2 separate regions of the Homo sapiens genome follow, and region 2 is linked to region 1. The links come from fine-mapping of genetic effects on gene expression. Tissue or cell type: stomach. Region 1 holds a variant in brackets; the other region holds the start of a gene. All regions are shown on one strand. Distances are between the middles of the regions.

Region 1 (8,199 bases):
TAAAGAGCTTTTAGTAATGTAAGGTGTGAGGAGAGGGAGGTGTTCTACAGTCCTATGATCAGGTTGCAGTCTTTTGGTGAGCCTATGCCCCTAAATTGTGACCTTCACCGGTGCTTCTGATTTTCCCCTCTTAGTTTGGACAGGATGGCTGGAGGGAGGTGCAGTGAGTTTTTCCCTTCCCCTGTGTGGAATGCTAGATATGGCTGTAGTTGGGTATTTCCCTTCTCTCACATAGAAGGCTAGAGGGAGCTGGAGTTGGGTTATTTTCTTCCTACAAGTCAAGTTCAGAGCTGGCTGGAGTTAAGTATTTTCTTTCTCTCAGATAGGTTAGGCTCTGATATGAGCCCAGTAGATGAGGCTGTAGAAAAAAGAATTTCTCCTGAGGTCAGGTTTTGTTAAGAATGGAATGCTCTGACGTACTTCAAAATGGTTTCTTTTCTCTTCTCCCTGCTGGTGGAAATATGAGGGGATTTTTCTCCAGTATTTATAGTGAGAACCTAGTAGAACTCCTGGAAGTAAAACTTAACAAAAACTTGAGAGCCCAATGATTGGATTTCTCTGGAGTTTTAATCTCTCACACTTGTCCGCACTGAGCTTCCAGCAATTCATCAGTTCAGGCGACCCACACAAAGTTTCACTAGTCATGCTGGAAGTGCTCTCAAGAAGCAGAGAAAACTCATGACATTACAAGAAAAAGTTGAATTGCTTGATATGTACCATACATAGAGGTCTACAGCTGTGGTTGCATTCCGTTTCAAACAGACAATTTATCTTGTAAGCAGACAATATAAACTTATGGTATAAATAAATACAGTACCATAAATGTGTTTTCTCATCCTTAGGATTTTCTTAATAACATTTTCTTTTCTCTAGCTTACTTTATTGTAAGAATACAGTATGTAATACATATAGCATAAAATATATGCTAATCAACTATGTTCCTAGTAATGCTTCTGGTCAACAATAGGCTATCAAGTTAAGATTCTGGGAAGTCAAAAATTATACATGGATTTTTGATGGCACAGGTGTTGGTGCCCCTAACGCTCAAGTTGTTCAAGAGTCAATGTATCTCACTGTACTCACCACTCTGCTTAAGAAATAGACATAACTTATATTTATAAAAGTATACATTAGGCTGGGCACGGTGGCTCACACCTGTAATCCCAGCACTTTGGAAGGCCGAGGTGGGTGGATCACAAGGTCAGGAGATCGAGACCATCCTGGCCAACATGGTGAAACCTCGTTTCTACTAAAATGCAAAAAAAAAAAAAAAAAAAAGTATCCGGGCGTGGTGGCGCATACCTGTAGTCCCAGCTACTCGGGAGGCTGAGGCAGGGGAATTGCTCGAATCCGGGAGGCGGAGGTTGCAGTGAGCCAAGATTGCGCCACTGCACTCCAGCCTGGCGACAGAGTGAGACCCTGTCTCAAAAAAAAAAAAAGAAGTGTACATTATATACTAATATATAAACATATATGTAGTCTACCTAGTGATTACTTTGGCTTTTAGACACTCCCATGGTAAATTAAGTAATTTTTTTGTTATTAATTTGTTTATTTAAGGAAATTTTTCTTTAAACTTTTAGATGATACAGCAGTGTTCGAGTTGATACAGCTAGTTCCACCAGGTAATATATATTGATGTAATATATACAATATAAGATATCATAAATTGATGTAATATATAATATATTATATATTGATTATACTATATTATTTGATAAGGATATAATATAGTGTATTATATACTGATAAAGTAAATTGACTTGGGAACTCATGTGAGTGACATTTTTTTTTACTTCAAAATCTCATCTTTTCAGGCCGGGCATAGTGGCTCATGCCTGCAATCCCAGCACTTTGGGAGGCTGAGGCAGGCGGATCACCTGAGGTCAGGAGTTCAAGACTAGCCTGACCAACATGGTGAAACCCCGTCTCTACTAAAAATAGAAAAATTATCCAGGTGTGGTGGTGGGCATCTGTAATCCCAACTACTCGGGAGGCTGAGACAGAAGAATCACTTGAACCCGGGAGGCAGAGGTTGCAGTGAGCCAAGATCATGCCATTGCACTCCAGCCTGGGTGACAGAGCGAGACTCCGTCTCAAAAAAAAAATCTCATCTATCCTCCTCTTCCCAAGTTGAGAACAGTGTCAGATTTCTATTGTTGATCTACTATGTGTAAAATGTCAGTAGACCAAAATAATATATACAGAAAGATTGTCATAAATGTCACTTTAATACATTGTTCTAAAATTGAATAGTAATAATTGAAAATGGAAACTAACTTATCATTCTAAAATATTTTGTGACAGTCATAAAAATTGACTTTTAAGTTTTTGTGATTTTTCTAAAACTATATATTTTTATTGATAAAGTAGTTAATTATCATTGTTTTTGTGTGTTGCATATTATTAGGGAAGGGAAGAGAATAAAACCTTACTTATGTAGTAAATGTTACAGTTCCCTGGAGAAGGCAGAGTTAAAATATAGAGGCTAGTTTCATTTCTGATATTGATTTCTGTGATTATAGATGACATCTATATTAATCAAATTTTTATTTTATGTGAAAAATAGAGTGCTGGCTGGGCGCGGTGGCTCATGCTTGTAATCCCAGCACTTTGTGGGGCCAAGGTGGGCAGATCATGAGGTCAGGAGATTGAGACCATCCTGGCCACCATGTTGAAACCCCATCTCTACTAAAAATATATAGCTAGGTGTGGTGGCGCATGCCTGTAGTCCCAGCTACTCAGGAGGCTGCAGGAGGAGAATCACTTGAACCCAGGGTGGGGTGGAGGTTGCAGTGAGCTGAGATGGCACCATTGCACTCCAGCCTGGGCAAAAAGAGTGAAACTCCATCTCAAAAAAAAAAAAGTCTGTCTCAAAAACAAACAAACAAAAACCAATGTGGAGATGGTAACTGACATATAAATGTTGGACCAACTTCATATTTTTGTAGTATGTTTCTGAAAAAGGAAAATGTGTTAATATTTTTAACATATCTTTATTTTAATTTTCCTTTCATAGAAAATAAACATGACCCAAAACAGGTATTTCAATAAGGCATCAGGCAGTAGATATATCATACTTGATGATTTTGTTTCTAAATAGAATATTTTATTATAATTTGAATCATAGGGTATCTTTCTTGTAGTGGGTGAAACACTGTCTACGTATGACGAAAATACACGAGATTTCATGTTTCCGGGTCCAAACCAAATGTCTGGACACCATGATTCAAACCGCCAGGTTACCATGAGGAGGATTTCTGGCCTTCGAGTAAGTGCTTGCAATTTTCTGAATCAGTTTTTGATGGAAAATCATTGTCAGAAACCACCGCATAGTGCTCGCCATCTTAAATGTGAAGAACAAATTCAAAGTGTAATTTAGTTTACTTAATTGTTTTGTAGTTTAAATCTTAATTGTTTTAGATTTCAATATGTTACTTAAACATATAAAGATATTTATTTACAGCAATGTAAAAACAGACTAATACAGTAAATTGGTTACTTAAACATATTGAAATCTAAATGAAAATAATTTAATAAAAAGTGCCATTAAAAATTTTTTAAATTGTAATTGACATTCTTCAAATCTCTGTCATCCCCTTCTCTCCCCATCCCATCTCTGTCTCTCTGTCTCTTTCTTCTCTTTATTTTTCTCTCTAAGGGATGATAATAAACATTTGAAAAAATACTCTAACTCATTAGTATTCAGAGAAATCCAAGTTAAAACAACCATATGATTTCATTTATATAGCTATAAGATTGGGAAAATTTAATAAATCTGATAAAAGTGAAAAACTTAGAATCTTTCATATGCTGCTATACCATGTGATATGGTTAGGCTCTGTGTCCCCACCCAAATCTCATCTTGAATTGTAATCCCTGTAATCCTTGTGTGTCAGGGGTGGGACCTGGTGGGAGGTGATTGGATCATGAGGGTGGTTTCCCCCGTGCTGTTCTCATGATAGCAAGTGAGTTCTCACGAAATCTGATGGTTTTATAAGTGTTTGACATTTCCTGCTGCACACACATTTTCTCTCTCGCCTGCTGCCATGTAAGATGATTTGCCTCTTCCCCTTCCACTGTGATTGTAAGTTTCCTGAGGCCTTCCCAGCCATGTAAAACTGTGAGTCAGTTAAACCTCTTTCCTGATAAATTACCCAGTCTCAGATATTTCTTGCTAGCAATATGACAATGGATTAATACAGTACATTGGTACCGAGGTAGTGTGGCATTGCTATAAGATACCCGAGAATGTGGAAGTGAATTTGGAACTGGGTAATGGGCAGATGGAGGAACAGTTTGGAGGGCTCAGAAAGCAGGAAGATGTGGGAAAGTTTGGAACTTCCTAGAGACTTGTTGAATGGCTTTGACTATAATGCTGTTAGTGATATAGACAATGAAGTCCAGACGGAGGTTGTTTCAGATGAAGATGAGAAATTTGTTGGGAACTGGAATAAGGGTGACTCTTGCTATGCTTTAGCAAAGAGAGTGGCAGCATTTTGCCCCTGTGCTAGAGATCTGTGGAACTTTGAACTTGAGAGAGATGATTTAGGGTATCTGGTGGAAGAAATTTCTAAGCAGCAAAGCATTCAAGAGGTGACTTGGGTGCTGTTAAAGGCATTCAATTTCAAAAGGGAAATGGAACATAAAAGTTTGGAAAATTTGCAGCCTGACAATGGGATAGAAAAGAAAATTCAATTTTCTGAGTAGAAATTCAAGCCAGCTGTAGAAATTTGC[A/G]TAAGTAACAAGGAGCTGAATGTTAATCACCAAGACAGTGGGGCAGATGTCTCCAGGGCATGTCAGAGACCTTTGTAGCAGCCCTTCCCATCACAGGCCTTGAGGCCTAAGAGGAAAAGGTGGTTTTGTGGGCTAGGCCCAGGGTCCCTGTGCTGTGTGCAGCCTAGGGACTTGGTGCTGTGTCTCAGCCACTCCAGCCATGGCTGAAAGGGGCTAACATAGAGCTTGGGTCGTGGCTTCAGAGGGTGCAGGCCTCAAGCCTTGGCAGCTTCCATGTGGTGTTGAGCCTGCAAGTGCACAGAAATCAAGAATTGAGGTTTGGGAACTTCTGCCTAGATTTCAGAAGATGTGTGGAAACGCCTGGATGCCCAGGCAGAAGTTTGCTGCAGGGGCGAGGTGCTCATGGAGAACCTCTGCTAGGGCAGCCTAGAAGGGAAATGTGGGGTCAGAGCCTCCACACAGAGTCCCTACTGGGGCACTGCCTAGTGGAGCTGTGAGAAGAGGGCCACCATTCTCCAGATCCCAGAATGGTAGATCTACTGACAGCTTGCACCATGTGCCTGGAAAAAACTGCAGACACTCAGTGCCAACCAGTGAAGGCAGCCATTAGGGAGGCTATACCCTGCAAAGCCACAGGGGCGGAGCTGCCCAAGACCATGGGAACGTACCTCTTGTATCAGTGTGACCTGGATGTGAGATATGGAGTCAAAGGAGATCATTTTGGAGCTTTAAGATTTGATTGCCCTGCTGGATTTTGGACTTGCATGGGGCCTGTAGCCCCTTTGTTTTGGTCAATTTCTCCCATTTGGAGTTGTTGTATTTACTCAATGCCTATACCCCCGTTGTATCTAGGAAGTACTAACTTGTTTTTGATTTTACAGGCTCAAAAGTGGAAGGCACTTGCCTTGTCTTGATGAAACTTTGGACTGTGGACTTTTGAGTTAATGCTGAAATGAGTTAAGACTTTGGGGGACTGTTGGGAAGGCATGATTGGTTTTGAAATGTGAAGATAAGAGATTTGGGAGGGTCCAGGGACTGAATGATGTGGTGTGGTTCTGGGTCCCTACCCAGATCTCATCTTGCAGCTCCCATAATTCTCATGTGCTATGGGAGGGACCTGGTGGGAGATGATTGAATCATGGGGATGGGTCTTTCTCACGCTGTTCTCATGATAGTGAATGGGTCTCATGAGATCTGATGGTTTAAAAAATGGGAATTTCTTTGCACAAGCTCTCTCTTTGTCTGCCACCATCCATGTAAGATGTGACTTGCTCCTCCCTGCATTCCACCATGTGGAAGTGTAAGTCCAGTAAACCTCTTTCTTTTGTAAATTGCCCATTCTCAGGTATGTCTTTATCAGTACCATTAAAAATGAACTAATACAATATCTATCTTAAAGATGTATTCTCTCTGGTACACTAAGAGCCTTCTTAAGAATGTTTACCTGTTGGTTCATAATAGTGAAAAATTGAAATAATTGATATGTCTGTTAGTAGGAGTTTAGATAGATTAATTGTAAAATATGTATATAATGGAAATATATATTCATACACCTAAAATTAAAAGCTGCATCAAGTGACAGCTTACTCTCTATCCTTTACTATAACTTCCTTCAAGTTCTGTGGATGATTTGAAAATATTTTATTGCTGAAAGTAAGTCTTCCATGCAGAGAAACTGAGAGAAGCCCATGCCATTTCAAAAGAGGAAAAGCAAAAATTGTCCAGCTTGAAATTATTTGGATAGACCTTTAAAACTAATTGTATAAAATATTAGAGTAGTCCGAATAAGGAGAGTGTTGATATATGAACAAATATAGTTAACTAAGTAATTTCTCCTATAGATTTATGATATGCCCTATTCCAAGAAAAAGCAGCTTCATCTTTATGAAAGTATAAAAGTTGACTAAGTAGCAAGTCTATAAAACTATACTTTCTTTGGGGATATTTCAGTGTCCATTAGCATGCTTCTGTACTATGAAAGTCTTCAAAGAGTATTTCAAGATCTGTGTGGAAACATACAATGAACAAATAATCACATTTTAAAATTATGGTCTCTTTAATGTAATTTAAAATTCTGTATTATACCAATGTGGTAATATAAACTCAAGAGTATGGAACATTAAGAGGGATTTACTTTTCATCATTTAATTTGAGTTACTTTTGCATTTATTTGGAAGATGATGGATTATTAAAACAAAAATATATAAAAATTAGGACTTCTACGAATGGCAGTTTGAAGAGATTGAGAGTTCTTATAAAACTAGACAAAATTTTCACAAACAATGAATTCAGGATACTGGAAACTGACAAGGTAAGACGAAGAAGTTTTCATGCTTGAAAAACTGCTAAAGCTTTGGGAAAAACTGGCGAGACTATTAACATTCTTGCCTGGGATGCTCTTATATTCTGTTTGGTAAGTGAGAACTAAAGTTTATCTATTCTGGAGCTAGTGCAAAAATCAACAGCTTTGCTACCAGAGGGAACAGAATCAGTTTTGGGCAGTGGCACAAATAGCACAGCTTTGCCAGCTAACTGTGGTGGATTCAGTTGGAGCAGATGAAGAAACCCCACAGCTTTGCTAGGCAGAGCTCTAACTGGGGCAAGGATTACCTGCCAGAAAGTTGACAGGAAGGTCCTGGGAGTAAGGTAACAATAAAGGGCTGAGATAAACTCTCCACCTATTCTTGGCTGACTGTGAAACTGCATATCAAGGGGAGACAGTGAGAGCCCAGCCAAAAGTGAAAGCCAAGGGAGACTGGAGTCCTGGCTGCAATTTTGAATGATTTCCTAATCTATACACAGGTCATCAGCAGAGGGTAGGACTCCTATGGGTTCACTGGATGACCACTTACCTATGCATATGCAGGTGAGACTCCTAGAAAGAATCAAAGAATAGAAATACATAGAACATATATAAACTGAACACCAAATTGGCAGTTCTAAATCTAGCCATATCTATCATTATATTTAAATACGAATAGGAAAAATGCTTCAATCAGTAGTTTGTTGCCCTGGCAGAAAACAGCGCACTCCTTCTGGGAATTCTTGTGATTCTGCATAATCATCTGTAAGTCCCAGGCTATGCTCCTGAAGCCTTTACTATGGCAAGGATTCAGACAACATTTGGGATTAAATTCTGGCACTTTCATGGATGAACTGAGTAACCTTTGGCAAAGCACCATAACATGGCGATATCATAGGGTTTTTGGGTAGATTAATGTAAACTTGTAAATGGTTATAGCAGTGTCTGGCAAGTAAACACTCAATAAATGTTAGTGATATGATGATAGCTGTGAATATCATGATGGTGATGATGGAGTAGAGATGATGATAATATCTCCTGTTCTAGATTGTGAACTCCATAAAAACAGAATCTTTGACTTTCTCATCTTTGAATTTAACTCTTAACACAGTACCTTGCCTGGAGTAGGTACTTAATAAATGTCTCTTAATTAAATTGAA
Region 2 (8,165 bases), 190 kb after region 1:
TGAGTCTGAGTGTGCACGTGTAAGTATGTAAAGGAGCATGAGTGTGAGACTGCATGTGAGTGTATGTGATTGTGACAGTGTGTATGAGAGTGAGAGTGTGAGTGCGTGAGAGAAGGTGTGAGTGTGAGAATAGGAGTATGATTGTGTGCATGAGTTTGCAAGCATGTATGAGTGCGGGCATGTATGAACATGTGTGGGTGCCTTTGTATGTGAGTGTGAGTGTTGTGTGTCAGTGTGTGAGAGTGTGCATGTGGGAGTGGGTATGCACACATGCCGTGTGTGAGTTTTGCATGCCTGGGTGTGTATACTGCTTCAGCTACCACTGGGGCTGATGACTCTACTGGTAATTTTTGAGGCAGGGCTTTCCTCCCTCCATCCCATTCCAGGAGGAGGAAGTTAATTTTGAGGACCAATAGAAATGTGAGGTGGCTTGATGGGAGAAATTGTGGCTCACGAAGGTTTGGGGATCGATTCCCTGAGGTTTTTGGGGATTTTACCTCTGTGATTCCCCTAACTTAGAAATGTGGTGTGGCTTGATGGGAGAAACTGTGGCTCACAAAGTTTTGGGGATCGATTCCCTGAGATTGCTGGGGATTTTACCTCTGTGATTCCCTTAACTTAACTGTTCTTCAATATTAAGCTTATGTGTCACCTTCCCCCCAAAATCTTTCCTAACCCTAGCTGACTCCACTGTCTGGTGGTCAGGGGCTTCCAAGCTCTGGTGAGTGCCCCCTGCTTCCCTCTGGCTCAGCAGTGCGCATGATGTTTATGAATCTATCTGCCCCACTCAGCTCTGAGCTTCTCTAGGACAGGGACATTCCAGATTCATCACTGCAAGTCAAGTGCCAGATGTAGGGCCACACCTAGGAGGGGCCAGGGGATGTTTGTCCAAGGTGCGTGCTAGCAGGACCACTCAGGTTGCGGGGCGGGTTTGGGCGGGAGAGAAGGGGCCCAGAGTCAGGAAACACAACGGGGAGGTCTTTGCCTTGGTCCAGGTGTGAGAAGATGGGACAAGTGCTTGGATAGTGGGGAGGAAGAAAGTTGGGAGCCTCTGCACTAGGGGTGGTTGAGAAGGGTCAACTCACTGGCCACCAGCTCATGGACCTCCCGGCCAGGAAATAGCCGCCAATGGTCCCTCGACTTGCACGGATGGACGACTGGAAAGGAAATAGATGAGATGAGGATTTCTCAAGACTCTCTGAACCTCTGCCCTGCCCCCTCCCCGCAGATTTCCTTCCCCTCGGTGCAGGCACTGTGGGGACACAGAGGGTGAAAACTGAGGCAGAAGAGAGCTGCCTGAGGCTGGTTCCACAGTTTCTAAGCGATGTATCTTGGCAGAGTCACTTTCTCTGTGAGCCTCGCCATTCATCTCCCAGGGCCAGTGCGAAGAGCAAAGGAGGTAACGGATGTCACGTGTGTGAAGCCATTGATTGTGCACTCTTGTCCCCTTATCCTTCCCTCCCCAAAGTGCGCTTTCAGAGTATGATTTGTTATCACCTCCTTAGATGTGTAGTGCTCACCCTTTCTCTGAGCTGATCCCCTCCCTGCTCCCAGCTGAGCTCCCACACTGGAGGCGGGAGGACAGAGAGGGCTGCAGTTTGACTGTGAGACTTTGAGCCCTGAGTAGAGTTATGGGTACTGTTTTGGAGTTTCCCTTGCCCTGGGTTGAAATCAGATCACGCCACTGAGCCCCATCCAGGACCTCCCTGTCTTACACCAGTAGGTGGTCAGTTAGCAGCCTGTTGGAATATTCTCTGGAGATACAGGGTGAGGGCAGGGCAGTGGGTAGGGAAGGATGAACTTGAAGCAGCTATTCAGATGCAAAAGCCAACAGTTCTCTGACTTTCCCCTAAGGGAAAATAATCAGTCACGAGGGAGTGATAAATATGTGTGGGGCCTTGTGCTTGTTAAGCTTTTGCTTGTATTTTCCTTGTCAGCTCTGATCCTCTTGGAGGCCATACGAGCAAAACAGATCCATTTTACAGATGTGAAAATGGAGGCCCAACATTGGAAGCAATTTGTCCAAAGTCACAGAGGAGTTGGTGCTTTTCTCGGCTGGCCACTTCCAGGAGCCAGTGACCATCTGTTAGCCCAATTCTTCCTCACACCAGCACTAGAAGGCAGGGACTGTTCACCCCCCTTTATAGATGAGGAAACTGAGGCTCAGAGAGGGTCTCTGACCTGGCCACAGCCTAGGAAGTGACCATCTGGGACTTGAATCACAGCAGAGTCTAAAGGTGCTCACACTTCTGTGGAATGCGTGGTGATAATAGCAGCCATTTATTGCCTGCTGATCGGGCACCAGGCACCGTGCCAGGTGCTGCAGTATGTCCTGTTGCTGAATGATCACAGCATAGTCCTTATTCTCATTGTTCACCTGAGAAAGCTGATAGGCCTCATATGTTCCCAGGGACATGAGGCTCTCATTGTTGCAGCTGGGACCTGAACTCAGGTTTCCCTGACCCCAAAGCCTGGCCCCTGCCTCTAGCACTGAGGCTCCTGGGAACAATGGAGAACAGAGGAACCTTGGAATAAGCCTGGCACACTTCCCTGAGAGCACATGAGCCCCTTCTCATTTAGAAATCACCTTAGCCAAGATGCTAACGAATGCAGGACTGAGGTAGGGCCAGGGGTCAAGAGTTCTCAGAGTTGGGGGCCTTGGGGTGGGAAGAAGGAAGGAGTGAGGCTCAGGGCAACCAGGGATGGTTGGGGCCAAAGGCAGCAGGTGCTCAGAGAGGAGTCAGGAGTCGGGGGCCTGGTCTGCCTCTGACTCTCTGTGTGACCTCAGACCAGCCACACCCCTCTCTGCCCTTCTAAAAATGAGGAGATCAGGAGCCTGATTCCTGAAGGCCCTTCCTTCTCAGCCACATGGTTCTATGATCTGCTTCTTTCTGCCTAGCCCTGCCCCAGCTCCACAGCCCCACCCAAGCTGAGAGACCACTACTACCTCCCCTGCTAGCCCCAGCCTCAGGGCCCACTTACCCAGATCCCCACAGCAATGACGAAGACAAAGTAGATGACCACCACGCTGATGTCGTAGGCGTGCAGACCAACTCTGGAGTCCAGTGCTATGTGTGGAGCTGTCTCAGTCCTGACCCCGTCCCCTGAAGCTCCAGGCCCCATTGCTGCCAGCTCCTTGCTCATCTGTTAGTGTTGGTCAACAGCAGGCTGGACTTTGAGGCGCTCCTGGCTTCATTCCTTTCCTTTAATGATTAAACTGCCCCAAGCACCATTAGTTGGTGAGAAAACTCTGAGCCCTGCTGGCACATACAGTCCTGCCTCCTTTTCTCCCAACTGCCACCACCAACCCCTGCAGGACTCCTTCCTTCCTCTTCCTTGCTGCCACTACGTGCACACACATACATGCATGTGTACACACAGGCACACACATACACGCAATCTCCCTAACCCCAGATGAGCAGGAGGAGAAAGGAGGGGGAGGAGGAAGAGGAGAAAAGGAGCAGAATATTGGAACCCCAGAGGTGGGAAGGACTTCAGAAATCAAAGTGTTCAAACTCCTGTGTGGTGGGAAAACCAAGGCCCAGGGAAGTAAAGGTGGAGCCGGGACTGGAGTCCAATTTTCTTAAGAGTTCAATACAATTGTCTTTTACCTAGTGAGAGGAAGACAAGGGGAAGGAGGTGAGGAGTCTACTGTGACCCTAGCAAAGTGGCCACCACCTCATGTACTCCCATTCCAACCTACCTAGATGTTGCTTTCTCTTTTTATATAGTGTAGGAAACTGAGGCTGGGGAAGACATCATCATTTATTCCAAGGAACTAGGCAGGGCCATCTCTGAAAAGGCAGAGCCAGAATTCACATCTTCTGATGCCTGACCCATACTTCCTATTCTGTACTGTGACAGATGAAATGGTTGTGGTCAGGAGGCCTTCCCTGAAAAAGATACAGTGCTCCCTGGGTCCAGGGAAGACCATCTCTGGGACTCAGGCAGCCTAGATTTCAGTCCCAGCTCCACCTCTCACTGAACTACAGATGCCCTTGGGCAGGTTGCTAAATGTCTCTGGGCCCGGGTGTCCTCATCAGTGTGACCTGTGCCCTGCCTGCCTCACACCACCAATGAGGCTAAGATGTGCTCCTGAGAACCTCTGCAAACCCTGAGCTACTGAATGTTCTTGGGGTTAACACAAAGAAACCAACATCGACCACCATCTAGCCAAGGGGCCCAGATGCCACGCACTTAGATATCTGCTCACATGGTCCTTCCAAAGTAGCTGCATTTGGAATATTTCAGTCTTACAAATATTACTCTGCATGCATCTGCTGTAGGGCCCAGACTGGAGCAGCAGGAAAACAGATCTCACTGGCCCTGTCCCACACCCCATCCCCAGCTCTCACTGGCCCTGTCCCACACCCTATCCCCAGCATCTTATAAGTATCCCAAGGCTGGGTGTGAGGACCAGATCCTCTTTTTTCCCCTTTTGGTGGAAAGAAAAGTGAGAGGCAGGGTCCTAGGCCTTCTCTCCCCAGTTCTCCTATCCCAGAACATCAGGCACTGGCCAGGCTGAGCCCCGAGGAGAGGGATATTGATCTGGGAGAGAGGTCAGCATAGTCCCCAGCTGGACAGGGCTCTGTGGGATCTAGCACCTGTTAGGATTAGATACCAGAGGAAGAGTCCTTCATATACACGTTTAAAGGCAAGTTTATCAGACGAACAGGGATGCAGGAGGGGCAGCATTAGAAACATCAGGAAAATGTGATGGACCAGGTGCCCAGTGGTCCCTGGGGGTGAGCTGGATACAGGGACAGTGGGGAATGAGGCTGGCAGATCTCTGGGTGTTAATCAGGGAGCAGGGAAGGAGTGGTCTGAGCTTAGGCCTCTGAGCACACCATAGTGAGGGCTCTGGATCCGGATGACTCTTCCAGAGATGGGAAAAGGAATGTCGCAGGGAGAAGACAGCTGAGTCTTGTACTTCTTTCTATGCTCCCCACAAGGAGCCCCCTCACCCAGCCCTTGGGGTTTGCTATAGTTTGGATGCTTGTGTTGCTTCCAAAATTCATGTTGAAACTGAATCCCCAATGCAACAGTACTAAGAGGTAGGGCCTTTAGGAGTGATTAGCCCGTGAGGGCTTCTCCCTCATGGGTGGGATCAGTACCTTATAAAAGGGCTAAGGGAACTAGCCAGGCCCTTTTGCCTTTTTACCTTCTGCCATGTGAGGACACAGCCACAAGGTGCCGTCTTGGAGGCATAGACTGGGCCCTCACCAGACACCAAACCTGCTGGGGCTTTGATCTTGGACTTCCAGCCTCCAGAATTGTGAGAAATAAATTCCTGTACTTTATAAATTACCTGGTCTTAGGTGTTTTGCTGTAGCAGTAGGGATGGACTAGGACAGTGTTCTGCTGCCTGCATGCTCTGTCTTCCCATCTACCTCACAGATACATGAGGCTGACCCCCAAACCCTGCACACTTACCTAATCCAAAACTAGCAGGTTTGGGTTTATAGTAGCCTCTCCTCGAATGCATCTAAGACTTATCTGTAAGCTAACCAGGCACATTAGCAGCCCAGAGACCAACAGAGCATGAGGAAGGGAGCAAAAAAGGCTTTGAAACAGCCAGAATAGACATTCTAAAACTCATGCCCAAAACCTAAATCTTTGACTTATCAGTGAGCCTTGTGACCCCACTCAGAGACTGTTTATTTTTGTTTTAGCCAGAGTCTTGTTATTCATATCCCAACTCACAACAAATTAGAAGAGAGGGGGCAAAGCTACACAGGGACAGCAAGGAGAATGGCAGCTGATGGGTTGATGGTGCATGAGAGGTCATTAAACCTGGAAAGACCAGGAAAGACAATGTAAAAGATGACTAAATCGGGGCAAACAGACCTATAAAACTGGGTAGATCAACTCTCAACAAAGGGCATTCTTGAGTAGCAGCCAAGATTCACACACATACGGATGACCCAGAGTCATCAAGGAAAGGTGACTGTGGTCATTATGAGTTTTCTATTTAGAAGGCATGGAGTATGAAACCCAGGCAGGAAGAGTTTCATGCAAAATGGTCAAACATTTTAGGCAGGTGTTGGCATTCAAAGCTGAGGCCTCAATTATCCAGAATATTCTCTCAGAGAGCTTCCGAGAGTGAAGGATGTCCTCATGCTGTCAGTCCTACATGAAGTGAGGCCTGTCCTATCCCTGACCCTGTTCAGGGAGCACACATGTCTTTAGTTGTTCATGCCTTGTGGGGAATACAGACAGTCAAAAGACAGGTGCTTTTGACACAAAATAGGTCACTTTTGTCCACCCCTTTCTTCCTTTTAGCTGGATAGCCCAGAGGAAGGATCAATGAAGTCCTTTGTTGGAGAGACTGAGAAAGCTTTATGGGAAGGGGAATGGTTTCAGCCATGCATAAAAAAGTATAGAAATATAACAGGCCAATAAATGGAAGTTGCCACTGAGGCACAAAGACATACTACACATAAGAAGAACAAAGTTGGAGGTTTCATGCATCCTGATTTCAAAACTCACTACAAAGCTACAGTAGTGAAAGCAGTGTGGTAGTGGCATAAAGACAATCATATAAACCAATGGAATAGAACAGAGAGCCCAGAAATAAAGTCTCACAGTTACAGTCAAATGATTCTTGACAAGAGTGTGAAGACCACTCAGTGGAAAAATGACAGCATTTTCAACAAATGATGCTGAGAAAATGGAATATTCCTATGCCAAAGAAAGAAGTTGGACCCTTACATTGCACCATATATGAAAATTAACTCAAGATGGATTGAAGACTTAAATGCAAGAGCTAAGAAAATAAAGCTCTTAGAAGAAAACATAGGGTAAAATCTTCATGTTGTTGGACTTGGAGATAATTTCTTGGTGATGATGCCAAAATCACAGGCAATAAAGGAAAAAATAAATAAACTGAACTTCGTCAAAATTAAAAACTTCTGAGCATCAAAGGACACTATCAACAGAGTGAAAAGGCAACCGATGGAATGGGAGAAAATATTTACAAATCATACATCTGATAAGGGATTAGTACCTATAATATATGAAGAATTCCAGTAAATCAACACAAATGAAACTAACAATCCTACTCAAAAATAAGCAAAGGAGTTGAATAGACAATTCTCCAAAGAAGTTATACAGGTGGCCAAAATGCATATGAAAAGATGTTCAACACCACTAATCATTTATCATTGTGATACAATATCACTTTGTACCCATTTGGATGACTATTATCAATAAAACAGAAAATAACAAGTGTTGGTGAGGATGTGGAGACAGTGGAAACCTTGTGCATCACGGGTAGAAATATAGGATGGTGCAGCCTGCATGGAAAACAGTATGGTAGTTCCTCAAAAGATTAAAAATAGAGTTACTATGACCTAGCAATTTCACTTTTGGGCATATATCCAAAAGAATTGAAAACAGAGATTCAAAGAAATATTTGTACACCCATGTTCATAACAGCATTAATTTTAATGGCCAAAAGATGCAAACAACCCAAATGTCCATCAACAAATGAAGGGATAAACAAAATGTAGTCAAAACATTTAATGGAATATCATTCAGCCTTATAAGGAATTCAGGGCTGACACATACTACAACAGAGATGAACCTTGACATTATGCTGAATGAAAGAGAATTTTTGAGTGGCAAGAAACAAATACATAAGAAAAGAAATAGAGAGTTTACTAGATTAAAAGCTCACATTGAAACCCTCACCTCTCATAAGCAACAGTCCTTGATCATTGATGCCCAGTCTTGCTGCCTTTTTTCCTTAGAGCCTATAGCTAGGGCTGTCATAATAAGGACCACAAACTGGGTGACTTAAGCAACAGAAACAACATTCTTGGCTGCCATTCAAGAATGCCCTTTGTTGAGAGCTGATCTACCCTATATGAATGGAACCATATAGCATTTGTCTTTGACCCAAATGCTGTATGGTTCCATTCATATAGGGTGCCTAGAGTCGTCAAAATCATAGACACAGAAGGTAGAATAGTGGCTGCCAGGGTTTGGTGGAGGAGGGCTTAGGAGTTATTGTTTAATGGGTACAAAGTTTCAATTTGAGAAGATGAGAAGAGTTATGGAGATAGATGGTGGTAATGATTGCTCAACACAGTGAGTGTACTTAATATTACTGAATTCTATTCTGAAAAATGGTAAGTTATACATTATATATATTTAACCACAAT

What was found. PIP is the estimated chance that this variant, and not a neighbour inherited with it, causes the effect.
Region 2: SLC5A9 starts here. The variant in region 1 is fine-mapped to the expression of SLC5A9 in stomach (GTEx, PIP above 0.99). The same link has a PIP of 0.9 or more in ileum.

The regions. Positions count from the first base shown.
Region 1 is chr1:48,406,536-48,414,734 of GRCh38, reverse strand. It overlaps SPATA6 (spermatogenesis associated 6), which reads left to right. Exons shown (of 13, transcript NM_019073.4): 4 at 1,584-1,625; 5 at 3,147-3,271. Among named protein-coding and RNA genes, the nearest start is that of SPATA6, 62 kb to the left of the region's middle. The variant A/G (reference allele first, on the strand shown) is at 4,738.
Region 2 is chr1:48,217,716-48,225,880 of GRCh38, reverse strand. It overlaps SLC5A9 (solute carrier family 5 member 9), which reads right to left and starts at 3,165. Exons shown (of 14, transcript NM_001011547.3): 1 at 2,983-3,165; 2 at 1,086-1,157. The coding sequence starts at 3,144.